3 separate regions of the Homo sapiens genome follow, and all the other regions are linked to region 1. The links come from fine-mapping of genetic effects on gene expression. A gene starts in region 1. Each other region holds a variant in brackets. All regions are shown on one strand. Distances are between the middles of the regions.

What was found. PIP is the estimated chance that this variant, and not a neighbour inherited with it, causes the effect.
Region 2: its variant is fine-mapped to the expression of CPLX1 in lung (TOPMed, PIP 0.94).
Region 3: its variant is fine-mapped to the expression of CPLX1 in whole blood (INTERVAL, PIP above 0.99).

The regions. Positions count from the first base shown.
Region 1 is chr4:821,339-829,675 of GRCh38, forward strand. It overlaps CPLX1 (complexin 1), which reads right to left and starts at 4,791. Exons shown (of 4, transcript NM_006651.4): 1 at 4,708-4,791; 2 at 3,154-3,263. The coding sequence starts at 3,184. RefSeq lists a silencer at 4,761-4,810.
Region 2 is chr4:781,858-790,020 of GRCh38, forward strand. It overlaps CPLX1 (complexin 1), which reads right to left. Exons shown (of 4, transcript NM_006651.4): 4 at 3,100-4,841. The coding sequence ends at 4,644. LOC105374339 (a long non-coding RNA gene) reads left to right here and starts at 5,917. Exons shown (of 4, transcript XR_925032.4): 1 at 5,917-6,009; 2 at 6,106-7,500. RefSeq lists enhancers at 1-541, 542-1,259, 3,254-4,125, 6,098-6,599, 6,600-7,099 and 1 more and a silencer at 1-280. The variant T/C (reference allele first, on the strand shown) is at 3,965.
Region 3 is chr4:751,095-759,094 of GRCh38, forward strand. All of the region lies in intron 8 of PCGF3 (polycomb group ring finger 3), which reads left to right. It overlaps LOC124900163 (chloride intracellular channel protein 6-like), which reads right to left. Exons shown (of 2, transcript XM_047416474.1): 2 at 1-8,000. The coding sequence ends at 7,070. Among named protein-coding and RNA genes, the nearest start is that of PCGF3-AS1, 27 kb to the right of the region's middle. The variant C/T (reference allele first, on the strand shown) is at 4,033.

The DNA of each region.
Region 1 (8,337 bases):
GTCCGGCTGCCTCCCACTCTGCACCCCAGCCTCTCCGCACATGCATCCTCCAAGCCGTGTCCCACCTGAAGCCCCGGCCCGCCTGCCCCACACATTCCCGAGGACCTGAGCGTGTTTAAACAGGGCGTGTGTCACATCAAGGCGGAGGATGGGAGAGCGGGTGGCTGCTCGCTTCTGCCACATTTAGCCCCATGAGGGTCTGCAGTGACCACGGCACCCACACGTGCCACGTTCCTCCACGCTGTCCACAGAGCTCCCAGGCCGTGTTTGCAACTTTCTGGCCTGAGGAAACCAGTTTCTTTAAATTACTCCCTTGAGGACCCTGGATCCGGACCCACGTGTTGTGGGGGGAGGCCCGGCCCCAGTTCAAGGCCACTTTTGCTGCAGAGGAGCCTCCCGCTCCCCCACGAGCGATCACCCCGGCAGCCACCATGCTCCCTTCCCTTGGTGGCCCCAACAGGGGCCCCTCCTTGAGACCCAGCGTTGGGTCAGATGAGCAGGCCCTGGGCCACTCACTCCTCAGCAAGACTCACACCTGCGGCCCAGCCTGCCGCGGACAGCCCCCGAATGGTCTTGATTTAACCAGGCCTGTCCCCCTGCCCAGAGCCCTGGGCAGGTCCTCACCTCTTCCTCCTCTCTGCTGCACCCTCTGACGGGCGTGCACGTGTGCATGTGCCATGCTGCCTGCGCTCCTGGCCCTGACTCCTCTTAGCAGTTCATTTCTAATGCGTCTCTCTCCCCACTGTCTCTCCCTCTGTCTCTGTCTCTCCCTCTGTCTCTGTCTCTCCCTCTCACCACTGTCTCTCCCTCTGTTTCTGATTCTCCGTCTCTCCCCATCTCTGTCTCTCCCTCTGTCTCTGTCTCCATCTCTATCTCTCTAACTCTCTCTGTCTCTCTCTCTCCTTCTGCCTCCACCTCTCCCTCTGCCTCTCTCTGCCCTCTTCCTTTGTCTGTCTGTCTCTCTGTATCCCTCTGTCTCTCCCTCTGCTCCCATCTCTCCCTGTCTCTGTTTCTCCCTGTCTCTGTCTCCCTCTGTCTCTGTGTCTCCCTCTATCTCTGTCTCCGTCTCTCCCTCTTTCTCTCTCTCCCCTCTGCCTCTGTCTCTGACGTGCCGTCTCTGTTTTCACCTGTCTGTCCCTGTGCGTGCTGAATAACACATTCTTGTCTTTTTCTCTGTCTGTTTCTGGGCTGTCATTTTCTTTCTCCAGCTCCCCCTCCCCGACCCTGTTTCTGGGTTCGCCTTTCTTTGAACGGCTTCCTGGGTGCCTCCTGCTCCCTCTCCTGCCAGCTTCTTTGTGTCCGGGGCTTGGTCTGTTTCTCAATAGTTCTCTTGGGGTCTCTGCCAAGCTCTGTCGTGCTGTCTGGAGGTTCCCCCATTTCCCATCTCTGTCTTGCTCTGTCTCACTCACACGCATCCTGAGACAGCAACAATGAGGCTCGCCGGGTGAGGGACAGAGGCGCAGAGGCAGAAAACAAGGTCTCGACTGGAAGCCCCCCACCAGCTCCCGCCCTCAGCAGCTCTGGCTCCGAGCCTCAACGTGCTCTGCAAAGCCAATGTGGGGTGCTCTGGGAAGCACTCAGCGTGGAGCCCCCCCAGGGTCTGCTGGCTGCCCCCGCTCAGCTCCACCACGCTGAGCGACGCCTGCCCGGTTGCTGCTGCTGGAGAAACTTTGGGCTGCCATGAAACAAAAAGGGAATTCAGGCTGGTAATTACCCAGCTAATTTCAGTCATGTAGACAGCCAAATAAGATATTTCAGTTTCTTACAAGCCCACCTCAGGGCCTGAATTAGCCAACTAATTAATTATCCGTAACAGCCTGGGACTCCCTGGGTGGAACGTGCGTCCCTCCCAGCGCAGATGCAGGCTTGTCCCTGAATCACAGCCCGGTGACGCAGCCATTATAATTAGACTCAACCTGACTCTTACCCTTGACCACGAAATCTCAGGGATGTGGCCCCAGGACAGGCTCAATATCTTTTCATTTAATTTGTGTTGAGTGGAAGCACAGCCACCCTCCGGGAGACAGCCAGGCAGGCAGCTCCTGCCCTGGGGGAAGCGGCGCCTGCCCTCTGTACACCCTTGTCCCTGGCCCCTCGAACCCGGCCAGCTCCCCCACTGCAGAAATGCTCCCAGGAGGCCTGACTCACTCCAAGGTGTGAATGGCATCAGGTGAGGGTGCTCCCCCGTGGAGGCCACCCAAGCAAGACGTCTCTAGTGGTAGAATCGGGCACCGGCCACAGGTTCCCCTCACAGGAGTTCTGGGCACTGGTGCTGGGGGAACACAGGATGGACGGCTCTGGGCAAAACTGAGACTCGCCACGACAGCCCCGAGGCCTGAGTTGACCCATCAGCTCTGCCGGGACACGTCTGTACCAGCATGGCCCAGGCCCTGCCCACCTCCTGGTCTAGGAACCCAGCCACTGCTCTTGACATGGTCTCTGGCCACAATGACAGCCTTGGGTCAAGTGGGGACGAGGTTCCTTTCAAATAGCAGACAGCAGGTTGGAAGGGGGCCTGGCCCCACCCCAGTACACACAAAAAAGGCTGCACGTCCCGCCTGGGAGGCAGTCGAGACACACAAGCTGTTTCGGGCCTTTTCCTTCGCTCCCGTAACCAGCAAGCCCTGGTCCCTGAGGATGGCGCTGCCTCACCCAAGTGAAACCCACAGGGTCCTCGCCAGATGCACAGGCCAGCTCTGTCCCCACGCCTGTCCCTGAGGCTGCCACCTGCATCCTGCTCTCCCACCGCTTGGCTCTCCTCATCTGGAAGGAAGCCCCCTTGGGGGCTGCCCAGCCTGGCCAGTTAGAATTGGCCCTGTAAAGCCTACGCCAGAGTGTGCACCCTCCCCCAGGACGTGCATCAGCATGGTCCATGGGCTCTGCCCCGACCACAGCAGTGGGGCAGAGTGAGCTTACAGGGCAGCCCCTGTCCCGCCAGGAACACCAGTTCTGGCTCGGGGCCTCGAAAAGGGCCGGGCTGGGGGCGCTGCTGGGCACGGTCCTTGCTCCTCTGCCCCAGGCTCCTGTGCAGGGCTGCGTGGGTGGCCGTGTGGCTGCAGGGGCGCTGCTGCGGTGGGCCAGATGAGGAGCAGCTGCTGTGGTGGTCTCTCCATGTCCCCTCAGCCCCTCCCCACCCCACCTCCCGCTTCCTACCTCCTAGAGCCTGCTTCATCACAAACTCCATGGCGATTGCTCTGCTTCCACAGTGGCTCCTCCAGGGGTCAGAACTCACACGCAAGTATGGCCGGGAGCGAGTGTTCTTCCTGGGGGAGAGTGAAGTGGTCACAGGTCACCCTAAGCAGGCCCCTGCCTGGCCTTCCCCAGAGACCATCATTCCTTACCCGCAATACCTTGTGGGCTGGACCCTCCCCCACCTGGAGCGGCTGCCTGGGAAGTCCTTCGTGAGGGGCTTCTGTCCCCACACCCAAACCAGGACCCCAGAGGACCTGAAAATGGTCTCCCCAGCTCCTGGGGTGTCTGAAGCCTCTGCAGGGAGGGCTGCTGATGGCTTAGGGGGCATCGCTCAGAGGCGCCTGGCGCCAGGCTGCGGAAGCAGGGGCGGGGCCCAGGGGGCGTTTGAAGGTGACTGCTCCGCTCTGCAGCTCAGTGTCTGGAGCGGCGCCTCCGCGGTGGTCCCGAGCCCAGGGCCGTGGAGAAGGGTTGGGGGTGGGTCTTTGAGCGGGTACCCTTCAGGGCGGGCTCCTGTGGCTTCTGACCAGGGAGGCTTGGGTGACCCTATCCCTGACGGCACTGCAGTCAGTGTGCCCCCCACATGGCCCGCGTAGAAGAGATCGGGGTTGGGGAGAAACTTCAGGGGGCTCAGCCTTCAGGAAACACGTGGGGACGGGGACAGAGCACCCCCGCCCCGGGGGCGTGCATGGGGTGGGGTGGGGCGCTCTGGTCCCCTCTTGGGAAGCCGCTTTCTGAAATCACAGCAGCCGCAGTGAGCCCCCCGGTTTTGCGGGGTCTCTCCTATCGGGGAACCCCAGGTCCCTGGAGAGACACTGTTTGACGGTTCACCCCTCGCCCTCCGCAGAGGAAGGAGACTCGCGCGGGGACTGGGAGGGCGGCGGGCGGGGAGCGCCCCTCGGAGGCTTTGCCGCAGCGCCGATTCTCCTCCAAACTTCTCCCCTGGCTCCCGCGGCGCGGGGAAGGAGGGCACGGCCGGGCCCCGCAGACCCGCAGGGCTCCGGCCCCGCCGCACCCGCACCCCTCGGCTTTGCGGGCGGGCGAGCGGCCCTCAGGCGGGAGCGCGCCAGGAGAGGAAAGAAAGAGGGCGAGGGAGGAGAGGGGGAGCCTCGAGACAGGAAGAAGCGAGGAGGAGGCCGGGCGCGGGCCGGGACCGCGGGGGCCGCTTCAGCACCGCGGCAGTGGACAGCGCCCGCCCCGGACCCCGCGCGCGCGGAGCCCGGGAGAGAAACGGGGGCTGCGGGGAGAAGCCGGGGTCGGGGGGAGAAACGGGGGCCGGAGGGAGAGGCCGGAGCCGGGGGGAGAAGCCGGAGCCGGGGAGGAGAGACCCGGGGAGCGGAGGCCGGGGGGAGGAGCTGGGCGAAGCCGGGGCCGCGGGGAGAAGGGGGGCCGGGAAGGAGAAACCGGGGCCGGCGGGAGAAGCGGGGAGAAGCGGGGGCCGGGGAGGAGACGCCGGGGCCGGGAGGGGAGACCCGGGGAGCGGAGGCCGGGCGCGCGCTGCGCTCGGGGCGCGGTTACCTTCCCGGGGCGCGGGCGGTCAGCGGCGGGGCGCGCTCGGGCCGGCTGGGTCCATGTGGCGCCCGGTGAGCTGCGGCGGCGGCTGAAGGGCACCGCGAGGAGGGCGCGTCACTCGCAGGCGCTCCCCGCCCCCCGCCCGCGTCCGAGCGTGACGAGCACGGGGAGGGGAGCGCCGAGGGGCGGGGCCGCGGGCGCCGGGCGGGGGCGGGGGTGGACCCGGGGGCGGGGGCGGAGGCGGACCCGGGGGCGGGGGGCGGGGGGTGGACCCGGGGCGGGGGCGGGGGGTGGACCCGGGGGCGGGGGCGGGGGGCGGGGGCGGGGGGCGGACCCGGGGCGGGGGCGGGGGGTGGACCCGGGGCGGGGGCGGGGGTGGACCCGGGGGCGGGGGCGGGGGGCGGGGGCGGGGGCGGGGGGTGGACCCGGGGCGGGGGCGGGGGTGGACCCGGGGGCGGGGGCGGGGGTGGACCCGAGTGACGCGCCCCCGCCTCCCTCCAACCCGGCCCGGGCTCGACCTTCCCCCGGCGGGCGCCTGCGACCCCCGCCCGCCCCTGATCTGGGCGCCCCCGGCTCTGCCCCCCCGCCCCCAGCCCGACGGTGCGGGCCTGCTCCCTACAGGGTCCGCGCGGGGCCGGTGGGTGCAAAACCCTCGGGCGGAGAAGTCGCTGCCTCCCGAGCGGAGGGGCCAGGGGTTGGGAGTCGCTGCCGCCCCCATTCTCCGGTGACCGTGTCCCTGAGCGCCGCCCGCCGCCCCGACCCCTCTGCCCCGACCTCCCCGTATCGCAGGGCGGGAGAAGGGGGCCCCCAGACCCCTGAAAACCCACGCAAGCCCCTCGCAGCCAGAGACCCGCAGGCCGGCCCGGGCTCACTTTCGGTGTAACGGAGTCGCTGTTTCCTTTACCGGGACGAAGGCCAGAGACCCCACCGCTCCCTCCCCTGGCCCCCGGGATTTCCTCTGCAGCGGACGCGGCACTGCGGGAGAGCGGGGTCGCCGCAAGGTCGGCCCTGCGGTTCGCGCTGTGCAGTGTCGGGAGCCAGGCGGCGGGAGGGATGGGGCGCACCGCGACCCTAGAGCTGCCCTGTGCTCCTGGCGGGGTGGGGGTGGGGAGGGGGGAGGGGGGCCGCTGCCGGTGGCCGCCGCACTAACTTGTCACTGTCCCCTCCCTGCTGAGTCCTGGGGACTCCCCTGGCGCAGGGAAGATGCGGCCCCTCCCCCGCCCTCAGCCCCATCCCCTCCGGTGCCCCGTGTTTAGCCTGAGCTCAGGAGGACTCAGAGGCCTGGACTCCCAGCCTTGGCCCCAGCGCCTCTGCCCCCGTCCCCACTCTTCTGCTGACTTGGCAGGGGACCCTTCGCAGAGGAAGGGAGCGCTGGGGGAGAGGGAAGGGTGAAGGCACCAGGGCCAAGCCCATGGGGGCTCCCTGAGACAGCCATGAGGGTCCCGTGGGCCTGGGGGTTCACAGGCAACCTCCCAGAGGGGGACCCATGCCCTAGGATTGGGGTCTCTTCAGCCTCCCTGGCTGGAAGCCATGGGCACCCCCAGCACCGTCCCTTCCTCTCTCCCGGGATCTGAGCCAAGTGGGCTCAGAACGTTGGGCCCAGGGACAGGAGGCAGGACACATGCCTGGGGGCCCGGCCTGAGCCCCAGCCTGCTCTGCTCCATCTGCTCCTCTAGTCTCCTCAGGACCTGGGAGGGGACAGCAAGGGTGAGATGTTCGGGTCCAAGAAAGAGGTCACTTCTCGGCCCTGGTGCTTTCTCTCTCCATCCCTAACTGGGTGGATAACCCAACAGCTAACCCGGACAGTAACCCCAGAGAGGACCCCAGGGGTGACCCCCTGAGCCCAGAGCCAGGCTCATGACTGACCCTGCCACCTCCACAAGCTGCATGCAAGGGATATGCTGGTGCCTTTGGGACAGTCTGCACAGGAGTGCAGGGAGGTGCCCGTTCTTCCGAGCAGAAGCACTGGACTCCTAGGCTGACCCCTCCCCGTTCTACAACCCAGGCCAGCCTGAGCTCCAAGCACACCTGGAGCTGGGGCCTGGGGCACAGAGGACAGAGACCCTCTGCCAGCCCTCACGTTCTGCCCTGTCTTCCTCTGCCTCTCTCTCTGTCTCTTTCTCCGTCGCTGTATCTCTCTGTCACTGTGTCTTTCTGCCCGTCTCTCTGTCTCTATCTTTCTGTCTCTGTCTTTCTCTGTCACTGTATCTGTCTCTGTGTCTTTTTGTCTCTCTGTCTCTTTCTATCTCTGTCTCTGTCTTTCTGTCTTTTCTTTCTCTGTCGCTGTATCTCTCTGTCTCTGTGTCTGTCTCTGTCTCTCTGTGTCCGTCTCTCTCTGTCTCTGCCTGTCCCTGTTGTTACTTGTTACATCCAGCCACACATGCAGTGACTGCTTCTCAGCTCTCACACTTGTCTAGGCCCTAACCTGGGGGTGGGGGGGCCCAGCCACAACTTGGGGGAAATAGACAAGGTTGGTGACAGCCCCAGGTCAGAGTGACAAGTGGCCTAGGGAAGGGAAAGTGGGCATCTGCTGGAGGAGTTGAGGGTGGTGCCCACTCAGGGTGTGTGAGCTGGGCCAGGGGAAGGGAAAGTGGGCATCTGCTGGAGGGCTTCAGGGTGGTGCCCACTCAGGGTGTGTGAGCCAGGCCAGGGCTGCCCAGCTGGGATGGGAGTCACAGGCTGCTGGCCAGGAGCCACCCAGGCTCCGTTCCAGTGGCAGAAGGTGGTGACGCGGCAAAAGGCCTCTGCCAACCCCCACGGGCCACTTGGCCACACCAGGGCAGGTGCGGTTGGCCCTTCGAGTGCCCAGAGGAGGCCCTGAGCCCTGGAGAAGAAGCCCCGCAGACCTCCAGCCGGCTGGAAAGGGGCAGGAGCTGAGTGAGAAAGGGGCCAGCAGGTTGAAGGCCAGGTTGAAGATCCAGGCAGGGAAAACATTTTGCAGGCCGGGGAAGAGTTGGAGGCCACCCCGTCCAGGCGGATGTTGGGAGAAGGAGGAGGTGGGGTGTGGAGCAAGTCCGGGAGGAGCAGGATGGAGCTCCAACGAGGGCTCCCCCAGAGGTCAGCTTGGAGAAGTGTGAGTGCTTGGCTGGGCCGAGCCCTGGCTGTGGGGCCTGTGCCAGCCGGTTGGACATGGATGGTACCCCCGGCCCAGCCAGCCCTCTGCTCCTCAGATGCTCCATCCCCAGCCCCAGTGAGGCCAGGGACCCCAGGAGCACAAAGCAGGACTGTGTGAGGACCATGTGGCACTGGGTTTGAGACCCTGCGGGGTCACTCCAGACAGCAGGGAAAGGAGGCAGCTGCCCTGCTGCAACCTCCAGCTCTAGCCTCTCTGGAAGCCCCTGCCAAGGCCTCCACTGCCACCCTGCTCCCATCTTCTGGGTCCCATCTGCCCATAGCCCTCCTGGGTGCCAGGCATCCTCCTTGCCTTGGGCCAGGAAAGGGTCTGGGAAGCACTGTCAGGGTTTCCTGGGGTTGGCCTTCAGTCCTGGCGTGGGGTGTGGCCAGGGGGCCATGTCCCCCATGGGCCCAGCAGGAGGGCAGCGCTCTGCCACACCGCATGTGTGGATCCGGCCCACAGCACCCACCCAGAACCTTCAAACACAAACTTAATAGTTACATGTGCTGAGTGATTCAGTC
Region 2 (8,163 bases), 40 kb before region 1:
TCGGGCTCTGATTGGTCAGGCCTCCACACGTGAGCCTCTAGGAGCCAATCATGTCGGCCCACCTAGCATGCGCTGATTGGCTCAGGCTGGCCAGGGGCGGGCGCGGTCCTTCCACGGCCCGGTCCCCGCTCCCTTCCCCAGGCCCGGAGGCCCCGCCCGAGCGGCTCCGCTGGGGGCGGTTCTGCTGGAGAGGACGGATCTGCTGGGGAGATGGATATCCTGGAGGGGCGGATCTACTCGGGGGGCGGGTCTGCTGGGAAGGCCGGATCTGCTGTGAGGGGCGGGTCTTCTGGAGGGGCCGATCTGCTGAGGGGGCCGGATCTGCTGCCTGACAGGGCTTCCTGGCCTGGGGAGGAGGCCGTGTCTGGAGCTTGAAAGCCGGCCCCGCTGTGTTCAAGATACAGTCAAACGTTCAGAAGGAGGAGACTCCGGGGGCAGGGTGGTGCCCAGCCAGTGCATGGGGCCAGGGCCACGCTGGTGGCACCCAGGCAGCGCTGCCTCCTGGCTCTCGAATGGCTGTTCTCTGCCCAGAATGCTCTCCCACGGGACACGCGCCTCCCTCCGGGTCTGTGCACGTCACTCTGACAGAGAGGCCCCCTGACCACTCATGAAATAGTAACCCTAACCATTGCTCTCTGCTCCCTGTCCTGCTTGATTTTCCTCCAGGGCAAACACCGCCACTTCCATGTTTATCATCTGTCCTCCATCACTAGGAAAACCAGTTCCAGGAGGGAGGGACTAGTATTCCCAGCCCCTAGAACAGAGCAGCGCATATCACAGGGGCTCAGTAAACATCTGGGGAGGAGTGCCATTCCCAGGAGGCCTCAGACCCCGTCACCTGAGATGAGAGCTGGATCCCGGAGAAGCTCAGGTCTGACCCAGCATTCATTGCTGTAGGAAGGGCTCGTCTAGACTCCAAGGGAGCCGGGTGCGGTGGCTCACGCCTGAAATCCCAGCACTTCGGAAGGCCGAGGCGGGCGGATCACCAGGTCAGGAGATCCAGACCATCCTGGCTAACACGGTGAAACCCCGTCTCTACTAAAAATACAAAAAATTAGCCGGGCGTGGTGGCGGGTGCCTGTAGTCCCAGCTACTCGGGAGGCTGAGGCAGGAGAATGGTGTGAACTTGGGAGCGGAGCTTGCAGTGAGCCGAGATCGCACCACTGCACTCCATCCTGGGGGACAGAGAGAGACTCTGTCTCAAAAAAAAAAGACTCCAAGGGAAAGCTGCCTGGGTCGTGACCTGGCACGTCCAAGTCGCTGCTTAGGCTTGCAAGGGGGTCCAGACCAGGCTGTGGATGGGAAATGGGAGGCTGGGGGAGGATGGAGGCTGAGCAGTGGCTGGATGTTGGGGTGCCCTGTTGAGGGGCAGCTGGCAGCAGCCACGGACACAGGGGTGGGTGCAAAGACACTGAGTTTCTGTTCCAGGAGGAAGGGGGGCCAGCTGGCAGAGGAGAGATCACCCTGGGCAATTTGGTGGTGCCTGGGGTGCACACTTCCCCAGAGGCAGCAGGAGGAGGAGCTGGATACACCCTTCCCTGGGCTTGGAGGAGAGCACGTTCCCTCCCAGCTCCCACCTGGCATCCAGGAGGGCCCGGCCTGGGGTCAGGGCACATGGGGCCCTCCTGCCCTGGGACTGGGCAGCTCCCTGGGGCATTCCCAGCCAGCAGCATCAGGAAGGTTACAGGAGACCCAGACATGCTGCTCCCTAGAGAGGGCTCCTGACAAAGATTTTTTGTGTGGTCAAACTTTAGTTAACTTCCTGAATCTTCTGGTAGGCCCATTGGCCCACTTCCTTGTAAAATGCAGTTTTAGCAAAGAATCTGGCTAAGTCAGTTTAGCAACAAACCTTCATCCTGGAGATCTGATTGGGGTCCTCATGCTTCACCACCCTATGGGTCTGTCTGATTGCCCTGCCTGTCTCCAGCTAGAATCCAGTTAGATGGGTTTCATCAGAATCCCCCAACCCCTGATGTTCCTCAGTCATTTTCCATCCACTGAGCCCACCCTGCTCCTTGGCACCCATGGCAAGCCCTGTTGCATGGTCCCTGTACCTGTAGTGCTGGTCCTGAATAAAGCCTTCCTCACTCAGCTGTAACAAGTGTCACGGGACCATCTTTTCTTTTCTTTTTTCTTTTTTTTTTTTTGAGAGGGAGTCTCGCTCTGTCGCCCAGGCTGGAGTGCAGTGGTGTCATCTCGGCTCACTGCAACCTCTGACTCCCAGGTTCAAGGCGATTCTCCTGCCTCAGCCTCCCGAGTAGCTAGGACTACAGTTGCTTGCCACCTCACCCAGCTTTTTTTTTTTTTTTTTTGTAGTTTTAGTATTAATGGGGTTTCACCTTGTTAGCCAGAATAGTCTCCATCTCCTGACCTCGTGATCCGCTCACCTCGTCCTCCCAAAGTGCTGGGATGACAGGCGTGAGCCACCGCGCCCGGCCTGAACCACCGCACCTGGCCTGAACCACCGCACCTGGCCAGAATCATCTTTTAACAGCTTCCAAACTTGGAGGTCAAACAAGGACTTTCTGGGGAAGCAAGTGGCAGGCAGCAGCTAGGCGTGGGCTGCGCATCCAGCGGATTGAGTGTGGGCGGGACCGCCAGCAACCAGGCAGAGGGGCTGTTCTCTGGGTTGGGGTCAGGAACCTCTTCTGGCCTCAGCCCAGGTTGGCAGACATTTCCCTGCAGGGATCCGGGTCCAGGACTCAGGAGGAGGGACAGTCCCACGGGGGTGCTGGGGGGCAGGAATTCCTGGGTGGGCCGAGGTAAGGGCAGCACAGGGTGACCTGGGGCCCTGGGCCCGGTGGAGCTGAGGAGAGGGACAGGCCTGTGGTCGGGGGTCCTAGGTGGGAGGGAGAGCAGAGGGCAGATGCTTTGCGGGTGGAAGAACCACCCTGGGGGGCGGGAGACCCTGAAGGCGCAGGTTTGTGTTTAGATGGAGGTTGCGCTGGCTGGACGGCCTAGGGAAAATGGGTCTGACTGGATGGAGCTGAGTGAGAATGGTGGGAGGCCCTGCAGCCGCCGTGGAGAGAACATGCGCGGGGGAAAGCCCCGGTCCTCCGGCTGGCGAAATGGACCTCTGGAAGGAATGGCCACACGGTGTGAAATCACTGGTGTTTATTGGCTGTGATTCCATCCGGAGAGAACACACGCAGGGGCCCCGACATGCAGGAGGAGGCGCAGGCGCAGGACAGACGGACAGAGGACACCACGGTCTAAGCTAAGCTCGCGGCCCGGGGCGCCATGCGCTGGGAACGGGGTGCGCAGGTTCTACGAGAGGACGCCCTGTCTGCTCAGAGCTGGCTTTGTAAGGTGTGAAAACAGGAGTTTTTAAAAGACACGACCCGGGAGAAGTCAGTGAGAGGGCACAGGGCGAGCAGGACGGACAGCGACGTCCCCGCGGGCCGCGTCGCTGGGGCGCAGAGGGGCGCGGTGGTCTCTGCCCGGAGGGGCGTCGGTCGTTAGTATTGCAGTCTAACGTTATGGCTTCTCTAAAGCTATGTAAGGTCATGAAGGTCAATGCCAAGCCACGCCCTGGCCCGAAACACGTGGAGACTTGATGCATTTTTGATGTGGACGAAAGGGCCCGGGGGCGAGGCGGCGCCTGTCAAGATAAAACTCATTAAATGCAAAGACCTCATTTACCTGAGATTCAACAAATTGTGATGCAAATTAAACATGAATGGAGGAGAAACAGGGGCTCGGATGCCGCCCCGCAGGGCCACCAGGTGGATTAGGCCACACACGCGCCAGCTGCGCGCAGGGAACCCCGCAGGCCCCACCCGAGGAGCTGCCCACGGAGGAGGTGCTGGGCAGGGGCGCAGGGTCTCCAGCGTCCGGTGCCTCGGGCCTCTGCGGCTCCTGTGGAGGGTGCAGTGTTCAATGGCCGAGGGCAGGGGTCCTCCCCAGGGAGAAGCAGCAGCCGCGTGGGCGGAGAGGCTAGGAGGCCGGGCGGGGGGCGAGGACT[T/C]GGGAAGAGCGGGGTGACGGGGGTGGGGGCTGGGCGTCCCCCAAACCTATTGCTTTGTTTCCTTTAGTTTAGAAGTGAACACGGCCGTGGCGTTCGTAAGAAGCAAAACCTTCCAGAGAGGAGAGGAAAGGACGCGGACAGAGACGGATGGACAGGGGCGCGAGGGGGCCAGGCCGGGGGGCGGAGAGCGGCCGCGTGCGGACGCAAATACTCACGGCGGAGCGATCCGAACCCCGGAGTCCGCGTGCAGGAGGGGGACCCAGGCCCCGCCGCCCTCGCCCCGCCCGCAGCCCCCCGTCTGCTATGGCTGTGCTCCTGAGTGCGGGCCCGACAGGCGCCCACCGCCGCGAACGCGCGCACAGGGGTGGTCGCGGGGCTGCCCTTCGGCGGCCCTGGCCTCGGGCGCTGCTGGGTGGGCGGTAAACAGCAAGAGAAAGGGGCGTCCCAGGCGATGGGGCTCCAGCCACCCGCGGGCAGAGGAGCACGGGGCGGACTGGGGGGGTCCTGGGGGCGCGCGCCCCTTGCCGGGTGAGGGAGGCGGCGGGCGCGGGCAGGGCGGGCCTGGGGCTATGGCTTATATCGGCGTGGGGGCTGCGCTCTGCTCGTCCCTCAGGGGCCTCCGCGGAGGATCTGTAGGGGGAGGGGCGGGGGCTCCGCGGGGCCGCTGTCCCGCGCGCGGCTACTTCTTGAGCATGTCCTGCAGCGGCCCGGGCAGGTACTTGATGACGGTGTCCAGGATGCTCTCGTCCTCCTCCTCCACCTCGTCCCCGCAGCCCGGCGGGATGGCCTTCTTGGGCCGCGTCAAGCTCCCCTCGGAGTTGGCCTCCATGGCGGCCTGGGCCTCGGCCTCGCGCTCCTCCTTCTTCTTGATGCCGTACTGCGGGGGAGGCGGGGGTCAGGGCGGGGGTCCCGGCGGCTCCCGGGCGGGCCGCAGCCTCCCTGCGCCAGGGACTGGCCCAGGAACCCCCGAAGGCGTGGGTGCGGCCCCCTACCCCACCAGGCACACAAGGACCCCAGAAGGAGAAGAGACCCCACCCCGGGGGGTCCCTGGAGGAATGGGAAGCCCCCACGGAGAATGGGGGCCAGGAGCTGACATGGGGGGGAGCAGGGAGGGGGAGGCTCCCATCTTCCTTGAGAGGAGAGAGGGCTGTGGCCCCACCTCTGGCTCCAAACCCAGCCCAGCCCCTGGCATCCTGCCTTCCAGGAAGCCTCCGGCCCGGGGCAGGGAGGGGTGGGCAGGATGCTGCGTGGCAGAGGTGGGGAGAAACAGTCAACCCGCAGCTGACCCTCCTGCCCAGTGCCTGGTCCACGACCTGCATTCACACTCCCGGGCCTGGCCAAGGCTGCCTGGATGCGGCCGCGGCCCCAGCAGGGCCACTCCCTGGCAGGCCGCTGCAGCTCCGTGGGCAGCCGGCAGAGGGTCCTGGGCTGCGGTCACTTCCAGGCACTGGGTGTCCTGGAATCCCGCCTAGTCGTGCCCTCAGCCAGTATGCCTGGGCCTCACCGACCCCCTGCCCACCCGCGTTTCTCATCTCCCGTGAGTGCGTCTGCCCTCCGTAGTAGCTGAATATTGTCCCCCTCAAATTCATATTGCCTGGAGCTTCAAAGGTGATCTCATTCGGAAACAGGTCTTTGTTGATCTCATAATGGTAAGGATGGGGACGAGGCCATCCTGGATTTGAGGGGCCTCAAGTCCAGTGAGAGTGTCCTTGTAAGAGACAGAAAGGACAGACACCCGGATGGGGGCGGGCATACGAAAGCGGAGGAGGTCGCGAGTGGTCAAGAAACACCAGGGATTCGGGGCCGCCAGACGCAGGAAGGGGCAGGGAAGGGCCCTCCCCCAGAGCCTCCAGAGGGAGTGTGGGATTTTGTTCTTCTGCCCTCCAGGCCTCTAAGTTTTTGTCAGGCCCCGGGGTTTTGGTTTCTAGATCAATACGCCTCCCCACGCCACACTCCTCCAGCCCTCCCGTGAGCCACCAGCCCAGGAAGCCTGTGGTCATGGTCAGGCCACGGAACTACGGAACAGCCTCCTGCTGCCCAGGAAGGTGGGAACCAGTGGGGTTGGGCTGGCCTGGAAGGATTGGGGGCCTGGTGTTGTACGGAGCTGGACTTCCATCCCCTGAACAGGACCCCCGGGCCAGGTCCAAGGTCCTGGATCTGAGATTACAGGTGCTCTGGAGTAGTGAAGGCGTCAGCAGCTGCGTCCAGGAGAAAACTTAGGAGGGGAGTGGGCACCAGCACTCTACAGGACGGAGGAGCACACCGCGGGATCACCAGCCACAGGGAGGGGCCTTTCTGCCCAGGAGGAGCCCCTCCCCTGCCATCTCCTGCTCCTGTCTCAGCAGCCCCTCCCCATAGAAGCAGTTGGTTCTGCTCCTGGTGCTGGGCACCCCCTGGATCTCCAAGGAGGCCCCTCCTTCCTCCCAAATGGAGGGGGGGCTGCCTGTGTGCTCCCCAACCCCACCGAGGGCAGTCTCGGCACCTCTCCCCTCCCCTAGGGCTGCAGGTGGCTCTGGGTGTGGGGGGCCAGGGCCACCTTCAGTGAGATGGAAAGGAGGGCGCCACGTTCCCAGCCGCCTGTGGCCAGACCACCACCTGGCCACTGAGGAGAGAGGGGCCGTGGGCTCGCCCTAGTCCTCAGCAGCCCCTGCGCACTCTTGACAGAGCCGGGACTCCAGGGGTCTCCTCAGTGAAACGAAGAGCACAGGGTAGGAACGTTCTCCGCACAACAGGGGCGACACCCAGAGGGCCCTGCAGGCCCAGAACAAAGCCCTGACCCTGTGGGGCAGCAAGAGCAGATTGGTTCTCGTCCTAGCCATCCACAGCGGGAAGGGCAGCAGCTCCAGGCACGGAAGTGGAGGGAGCATGTGCTCTTCGTCCTGTGGGGCCAGGGGTGTGCTGGGGAGAGCGATGCCACTGGAAGCTAGGTCCGGCCAGAGAGCCTCCCTCCAGCCAGGGGTGTGGGGGTCTGTGCATGTGGCGGCAACATGTGTATCCAGCCCAGGAGGCTGTGCTGCCCACAGCAAAAGCACTCAGGAACATGTGTGTGCTCAGAGGAGCATGCCTGTAACGGCGGAACATGAGTTGTGTGAGCAAAGGAACCTCCCAGGTCAGGGGAGTGACCCTTGGGGCTTGTGGGACCCTGTCTGCAAACGGTGTGGGATCCTTCCTTCTGGGCCCAGGAAGGAGACCCCAGGCCCTGCCACCAGGTTGTGGGACACTCGGAGCTTGGCCTGAAGTGCCAGTTGCTGCAGTGAGGCTCCAGGTCATTCTGAGGCTGAGGTCACGCCGGACTTGGCCTGAGGGCCAGGGTCACTCTGCCGGGAAAACAGGCTCCGGGGCTGGGCTGCACACCAGAGCCTGGCTTCCACGTGGTCTGGCTGAGACCCAGTTCTGAGGCGTCTGCTCCAGAGACAAACGCCCAGGCACACCCAGCCCCAGGCCCACCGTGATGCTGGGCAGCAGCTCTCCAGGAAGTAACACCTGAGGATGGGAGTGGCTGCTGGGGGCGCCCAGGAGGCCCTGACACGTCTGAGGTGAGACCCTGAACCCTGAAAACACGGTATTCGTGAGAAAAAAGGGCAGTGGGTGCTAATCAATGCTGAGAACCAACAATAGGAATGATAGGACCAAACAGCCAGCATTCAGCAACCAGGTGGACACCTCCTAGCCGCTGTGGGAGCTGCGGGGGGTAGGGGGATGCAATGTATTGAGGGAGCCTAGTGGGCCCTCAGAAGGCCCGTGCAGGAAGGCCCAGGTGTGGGCTGCCCAACATGGGTGGCTGGAAGCTTATGCAGGACAAGGGCGGGTCAGTGCGCGGAGCACAGCGGGGCAGTCTCCCTCCTGCTCCCTGGGCCCGGGCCTGTCCAGATGGCTGCCTGACAGGAGGTGCAGGCGCGCTGCTCCTCTGGGAACTGCCTAGGGGGCTGGACACTCCAAAAGGACCCAGTCCCCATCTGCACAGAGGCCTTGGACAGGGCAGCTCAGCGTCTCTTCTCTAACCAACCCCCAAGATGCCGGGGGGTGCCACGGCCCAGAGGAGGCTGGAGGCAGCAGGTGTTCTGATCAGGTGGCCACGCCTGAGGGCAGGGTTCCCCCACCCCAACAGGTGGCCACGCCTGAAGGCAGGGTTCCCCTACCCCAACAGGTGGCCACGCCTGAAGGCAGGGTTCCCCCACCCCAACAGGTGGCCACGCCTG
Region 3 (8,000 bases), 70 kb before region 1:
TTCTTTCTCTGCTCTAATGGTTTGGGAATTTTGCATTCTCTTTCTGTTCTTCTTGTGGCTGCCCTTAAACTTGGATTCCGTGTCCGTTTGTGGGATTATCCGCGTCTATAACTTCGTGATGAGTTCCTGATCTCCGTCTTCCAAAACTTGGGAAGTCATCCGAGGGTTTGTTCCAGATTGTTTTGGGTAATTTTAAAATTTTATTTCACACTAATTTTATTCTAGGAATCGCTTCTTCATCTTACTGAAGTTTTGATGCGACGTTATAGTTATTTAGGCTTAACGGGAGGTTGCATGGGTTTTGTGGCCGTTTCTGGTGTCTTCCTGGTGTGTTTGGATTTGTGCTTCGCCACGTCCGCACGTCACTTCTGAGCCCAGTGCGGTGGCCCCTGAGCTCCTGCCGGTCACGGGCTGTGTGTTGTCCCCCTCACACCAGAGACAGTCGTTTCTTCTCTTAACTCTTAAGCCCTCCTCAGTCACTCGGATGAACTGATTAAATTCTGTGCTTTTAATACTAAGCATTAAAAAAAAAAAAACATATGAGGGAAGCACCTGCCACCCAGGCCCATGTTTCTGCTCTCAGCCTTGTGCCCTCCCCCGGTGGCCCCTCCAAAGGGCATGAAGCTGTGGATGCTGTGCCTGTGCCTGGAGGCTCTGGCCCTCCCACCCCTGGCTGGGCTCCAGCTCTAGGTTTGTTCAGCAGCCAACTCAGAGCAGCCGAGGCTCAGGGTGGCATCAGCCGGCCGCGCTGGCTTCACAGCCGACCTCTTCTCCATCATCTGACGGGCGCAGGCCCCCTCGCTGCCACCCCCACTGGTGGGCACTCAGCCTCAAGGCACAGGCCTCCTGGGACTGGTGGCTCCTCTGAATCTTCCTGAGAGAGGCAAGTTTAGTCATCGCTGAGCAACGCAAAAGCGTGTCGGGTTTATTTACTCACAACGATGTCTTCTAAACCAAAAATACTTGACGGGGCCTTTCTTTCTGTTTTCCGAGGGAGGGGATGGGGATCCTCCTGGAAGATGGTGCCCCCTGCACAGGTGAATGGCGTTTCCCACACTTGACCTTGGGAGTTTGGAAACTGGCGAAGCCGCCTCTTCCACTGCCCTTGCTGTTCCCTCCTGAGGTCCCTGGTCGTTCTTTCTCCTCTCAGTTCTGCCTCCCGCAGTCCCTGCATCTGCCACCTTCTCTGTGTGACCCCATTCCTTTCACAGCCAGAAGCCTCTTGGTTAGCCTCAGGTGACTCATTTGCTTCACAGCTGTTTTTTGCTCTCATCTTTTTTTAAGTATAAGCCATCGGTCTGTTTAATTCCAGAACTCTCCTTTCTGGAGCCTGACTTCTTTGGGAGCAGCCGGCGGGTTTCATGGATGCACGGCCACAGCTGTTCCGCTCTTTTCCCCCAGCTGCTGCTTCCAGAGCCTGGCTTTGCGTGGGCATCCTGAGGCCTCCGGGGACCGGGCGGGCAAGGGTGGGGTTTGTGGATAAGGAGTGAGGTGGGGGACGGGCCTGCTGCCCTGAGCTGGGGTCCTGAGTGTCCGCTGGGACTCGGGGGTGGGGGGCCATGCAGTCTTGGGGATACAGGGGCTCTACATGGACTTCGACCCCTGTGTGTGCAGCCTCCTCCGGTTCCAGGCCCCCGGGGTCTTCCCACCAGACTGAGGCTGGGCAGACGGGAGGGGCCTGCGCGTGGCTGTGACCCCGCCAGGGCAACCCCAGAGATTCCCGCCGCCTTCAGGCCCCTGTCAGATCCAAACACTCGGCCTCCGCCCATCTTCGTTTTCAGAGCCTCGGGATTGCCAGTGCCCTCCTGGTGCCCGTCTGTCCAGGGCTCTTCTGAACACGTCCCTGATGAAACTCTTCTCTCACTTCAGTAGGCTTTGTCCTCTGTCGAACCACAAAGGTTTGTGTTTGAGATTAGCTCCATTACCTGGATAGTGGGAGACAGATCCCGGCCCTCACTGGAGGCCCCTCTGGGTGCTGATGGCTCACACACCTGAGCTGCCAGGTGGCCCAGGAGAGGGCATGGGCACCTTCTCTCCCAGAGCTGACAAGCCCCGGAGCAAATGGCAAGGAAGTTAGAACAGAACTTTAGAGCTTTTTTATTTTTCTGAGACAGGATCTTACTTTCTTGCCTAGGCTGGAGTATAGTGGTGCAATCTCAGCTCCCTGCAGCCTCGACCTCTTGGGCTCAAGTGCTTCTCCCAACTCAGCCTCCCGAGTAGGGACCACAGGTGTGAGCCACTGTACCTGGCCTAGAACTTAATGTTTAAGAAGACTCTTGGCCGGGTGCGGTGGCTCACGCCCGTAATCCCAGCATATTGGGAGGCCGAGGCAGGCGGATCACAAGGTCAGGAGATCAAGACCATCCTGGCTAGCACAGTGAAACCCCATCTCTACTAAAAATACAAAAAATTAGCTGGGCGTGGTCGTGGGCACCTGTACTCGGAGGCTGAGGCAGGATAATGGCGTAAACCCGGGAGGCAGAGCTTGCAGTGAGCCGAGATCACGCCACTGCACTCCAGCCTGGGCGACAGAGCGAGAGTCCGGTCTCAAAAAAAAAAAAAAGAAGACTGGACCAGGCACGGTGGCTCACGCCTGTAATCCCAGTACTTTGGGAGGCTGAGGCGGGCAGATTGCCTAAGCTCAGGAGTGCGAGACCAGCCTGGGCAACAAGGTGAAACCCCGTCTCTACTAAAATACAAAAAATTAGCCGGGCATGGTGGTGGGTGCCTGTAATCCCAGCTACTCGGAGGCTGAGGCATGAGAATCGCTTGAACTTGCAGTGAGCTGAGATCGAGGCACTGCACTCCAGCCTGGGTAACAAGAGCGAGACTCTGACCTTCTACGAACCCTACATTCAGCTTCCCTTGGAGCGAGCAGCTGCCCAGTGGACTTCAGGGGCGTTCTGGGTCCTGGCAGGAGTCGCCTCCGTCTTTGGTGGTCCTGGCACCCACAGACCCAGTGGGACTGCAGGGCTGGTGTGGTCTCTGCTCATCTTCGCTCGTGCAGAGTTAGGAAACCCTTACCGGGCCTGTTGACTTGGTGGGTGTGATGTCCCAGCACCAGAAACAGGGGAAATGGCTCCTATACCCTGAGCAGGCTGGGGGTTCTGGTGTGGGGTCCCTGCCGCCCTCCAGAGGCTCCAATGGCTCTTGTGTCTGGAGCTGGAAATGTGGTTTGTTTTCACTCCTCCGAGTTGTGCCTCCCTGGCCCACTGGCTCCTGTCCGCACCCTCGGGCACGCGCTGTGCTCTTGGGACTTCACACCCGAGAGCCGGTCACCTGCTCCTGCTGCACGCCTGCTGGAAGTGGGCTCTGCCTGCAAGGGCCTCGCAGCCGGCGTGGTGAGGGTTGGCTGGTGGGGAGCGGAGAGCCCACCCATCCAGGCCAGAGCCCCTGGAGGTAGAAGGGGCGGAGGGTAGAAAGAGCCTCTCCTGGACTGTAGAGGTGAGGCAGGAGGTAGTGAGCTGGGACCTGGTGCCAGGCTGCCCCACGTGCCGTGGGTGGTGAGTCCGGGGCAGAGTGAACGGGTAAGGCTGGAGGTGAGGTTGGGGACCTTGGGGGCCTGTGGCGAGAACTTGCTGTTCACCCAGAGGAGGGAGATGAGGCAGTTGGGATGTGAGATCGGGGTGTGCTGTGGGATGCAGCCTGGCGTGGCTTTATCCCCAGAGGGTTGCCACTTAGCGCAGCTGCTCTGCAGTGAGCTGCCTGCACGGCCAGGGTGGCCATGCGGAGACCAGGCAGGCGTCTGAGCCAGAGGCCCAGGCAGGTGGCGGTGCGGGTGCAGCACTGGGTTTGGGGCATATTTAAAAGGGAGGGAGCCTGCAGGATTCGCTGGTGATCCAGATGCAGATGGCAGATCTTGGGCTCTTTTTCACTTCCAGGTGGACAAGGAGCTCAGTGTTCCCAGGCAGGCCGATGTGTAGCCATAGACAGCGACAGGTCTTTCTGCAGTGCCCTCTTTACAATCAGAGTTGCATTTCGAGGTGTGTAACGTACCCGCTTGATGGTGACTGCTGTGTGCACACAGGCCCG[C/T]GTGGTGTCGCAGAGCACACGGCGTTGTGTGCGTGGCACGTGTTGTTACGCTGTGACTTTTTTACACTTAATTTCCCATCTAATACTGGAGACTTTTAGGTGGTGACCAGCCCATCACTCTTCTAAGACATTGCACTTGTCCCCCTGGGCAGGTGTGTTCCACGGTATCTGTGTTATTTCTGATTCCAGTCTCCTGTGTGTGGGGTGTCCAGCGACTCATCGCACGTCTCTGGGCTCCTCTGCGTGTGAGTTGCTTACTTGTTCTTTGCCCATCTCTGTCCTGGGAAGACTGACTTTTCCTTATGTGAGCTGCAGGGCTACCTCCTCCCTCGCCGCCCCACGCTCACTGCAGGGATCGTCTTTCCTTCTGCGGCTGTCGGCTTTCTTCGACCTATCATCATCCACAGTTTTAAAATTTGACATAATTAAATGTATCGGTATTTTCTTCTGAATCTTAAAAATGTTTCCCCATTCTAAGGTCATAAATACATTCTCTTACATTGTCTTGTAAAATATTTTAAAGGTTTGCTTTTTAGTTGGGTTGTAAGCCCCTGCAGTTGACCTTGTGTGTAGAATGGACAAGGTGGAGTTCAACTTTGCCAAGTTTCCACACTCTCAGGTCCCCCTGGGCTCTCTGCTCTGTTCCGCTGGTCTCTTGTCTCCCATTGTGCCAAAACAACAAGGAACTTACTGAATTGCAATGATTTATTTTACCATTAAGTTGTGGTCTTCTGGGAGAGTACATACCCCTCCTCATTTTTCTTCTTCAGAATTGTCCTTTTTTTTTTTTTTTTTTTTTTTTTTTTGGAGATGGAGTTTCCCTCTTGCCCAGGCTGGAGTGCAAGGCCTGATCTTGGCTCACCGCAACCTCCACCTCCCGGGTTCAAGCGATTCTTCTGTCTCAGCCTTACAGAGTAGCTGGGATTATAGGCACATGCCACCATACCCAGCTAATTTTTTGTATTTTTAGTAGAGACGGGGTTTCTCCATGTTGATCAGGCTGGTCTTGAACTCTTAACCTCAGGTGATTCACCCGCCTCAGCCTCCCAAAATGCTGGGATTACAGACGTGAGCCACCGCCGCACTTGGCTTTTTTTTTTTTGAGATGTAGTCTTATACTCTGTCGCCCAGGCTGGAGTGTGGGGGTGCAATCTCGGCTCACTGCAACCTCTACCTCCCTGGTTGAAGTGAGTCTCCCACCTCCGCCTCCTGAGTAGCTGGGATTACAGGCACGCACCACCATGCCCAGCTAATTTTTGTATTTTTATTACAGACGGGGTTTCACTATGTTGGCCCGTCTGGCCTCGAACTCCTGACCTCAAATGATCCACCCGCCTCAGCCTCCCAAAGTGCTGGGATTACAGGTGTAAGCCACTGCACCCGGCTCTTTTCTAAACTCTAGAGTTGAACATTCCTTTAGTTTCCAGCTTCATAATTTGGTTCTTATTAAAATAATTCTAGAATTTTCATGTTTTTTTTAACCAGCTTTCTAAATTGTGTTACATGCACATAAAATATGCCATTTTAACCATTTTCAGGTGTGTGGTTCAGTGGCCTTGGGTACAGACCCAGTGTTACACAGCCACCACCACCACCATCATCTCCAGAGCCTTTTTATCTTCCCAAACTGAAGCTCTGCCCCCATTAAACACTCACTCCCCACCCCGCTCCCCCAGCAGGGTTAGATCGCAGAGGGGCCTGCCGGGGGCTCTGAGGTGATGGAAACCATCTGAGACTGCCATGGCGATGATCGAGAAAGTCTGTGAATTTACGGAAAATTATTGCATTATATACATAAAAGAGGTGTGTGTAAACTGTGCCATAATAAAGCCTAAAAATTAGAAGCATGCTTGTAACTTAGTGTATTTAAATAGGTAATTCGTTCAGTCCTGAGGTTAGTATTATTGAAAAGGTTTAATTTTGTTCTCATCTCTGCCGCTGTCTGTAGTGACCTATAGAGAACCACTGTGATCACCTCCTGTATGTATGCAAATCTGAGCAAACGTAAACATATTTTCTTCTTGTTTTCCTTCCACAATCCCCCCCACTCCCACCCCCGCCCATGTGTGTCTGCGTTTTCCCGCAGGTGCATGCAGGCCCGCGTTCATCTGTGCAGCCCTTCCTGCTGCCCTGCGGGCCCCATGCACTGCAGACCCCGCTGCCTCAGACCTGTGCCTGCGTGGCTGGCACACCTGTTCCCTGAGTCGGAGACGGCGGCTGCCTGTTGAGGGCAGGGTGCGTCCGCTGCTTATAGAGACGTGAAGCCCACCATGGCCATTCTGTTGGCGTGCGTTTGTCACCAGCTGTGTTCCCGTATAGAAACGTTTCTCGTCTTTGGGGGGCTTCTTCCTCATTAAGCTCTATTTCTTAAAGTCCCATGACATACTAATCTAGCTATGCCAGCTTTCTGTTGGTGAATACTTGTGTGATATTTCTGTTCTTAAAATGTCTTAAATGTGACACTGTTTACAACGTAGAGCTAGGTTTTTTAAAAAAATCAAACTTTTTTAGCTGGCACGTTACCTTACACATTCCACGATTTTCCATGGAGGATGTGAGTTGGTTCCTGCTTTATTTTTTTATTTTGCTCTTTTCGTCAGTTTTTTCCTAATGCTTCCTTCCTCCCTGTTGTCTAGTGAATTAGTAACTTTCTTTAATCTCTTTCTTTCTTCCTCTGGTTTGCAAGGTATAAGCTCTACTTCTGTTATACTAGTGGTTACAAAATGTATAAACTATTTACATTTTTAGAAATCCAAAGTTGGCCCGGCGCGGTGGCTCACGCCTGTAATCCTAGCACTTTGGGAAGCCGAGGTGGGCAGATCACGAGGTCAGGAGATCAAGACCATTCTGGCCAACTTGGTGAAACCCCGTCTCTACTAAAATACAAAAAAATTAGCCGGGCATGATGGTGCGCGCCTGTAGTCCCAGCTACTCGGGAGGCTGAGGCAGCGGAATCGCTTGAACCCAGGAGGCGGAGGTTGCAGTGAGCCGAGATCGTGCCACGGCATCCAGCCTGGCTACAGAGGGAGACTCTGTCTCAAAAAAAAAAAAAAAAAAAAAAAAAAAGTCCAAAGTCACTGTAAGTCTGTGCCCCTCCCTGCACAAGCACCCCCACCGCGGCTCTCACCGGGCACCCCCTTTCTCCCTGCTTCTCACTTCTTCCGCCAAACTCCAGGTCTTTCTCCCCGCGCGGCCCCTCTCCCGAGTTCTTCTCGCTCCGGACTCCAGGTCTTTCTCCCCTCGAGGCCCCTCTCCGGAGTTCTTCTCCTTCCGGACTCCGGGTCTTTCTCCCCGCGCGGCCCCTCTCCCGAGTTCTTCTCCTTCCGGACTCCGGGTCTTTCTTCCCGTGCGGCCCCTCTCCCGAGCTCTTCTCGCTCCGGACTCTGGGTCTTTCTCCCCACGCGGCCCCTCTCCCGAGTTCTCCCTCCAGACTCCGGGTCTTTCCCCGCACGGCCCCTCCCCCGAGTTCTTCTCCATCCCGACTCCAGTTCTTTCTCCCCGCGCGGCCCCTCTCCCGAGTTCTTCTCCTTCCGGACTCCAGGTCTTTCTCCCCGCGCGGCCCCTCTCCCGAGTTCTTCTCCTTCCGGACTCCGGGTCTTTCTCCCCTCGCGGCCCCTCTCCCGAGCTCTTCTTGCTCCGGACTCCGGGTCTTTCTCCCCGCGCGGCCCCTCTCCCGAGCTCTTCTTGCTCCGGACTCCGGGTCTTTCTCCCCGCGCGGCCCCTCTCCCGAGTTCTTCTCCTTCCGGACTCCGGGTCTTTCTCCCCGCGCGGCCCCTCTCCCGAGTTGTTCTCCTTCCGGACTCCGGGTCTTTCTCCCCGCGCGGCCCCTCTCCCGAGCTCTTCTCGCTCCGGACTCCGGGTCTTTCTCCCCGCGCGGCCCCTCTCCCGAGTTGTTCTCCTTCCGGACTCCGGGTCTTTCTCCCCGCGCGGCCCCTCTCCCGAGTTGTTCTCCTTCCGGACTCCGGGTC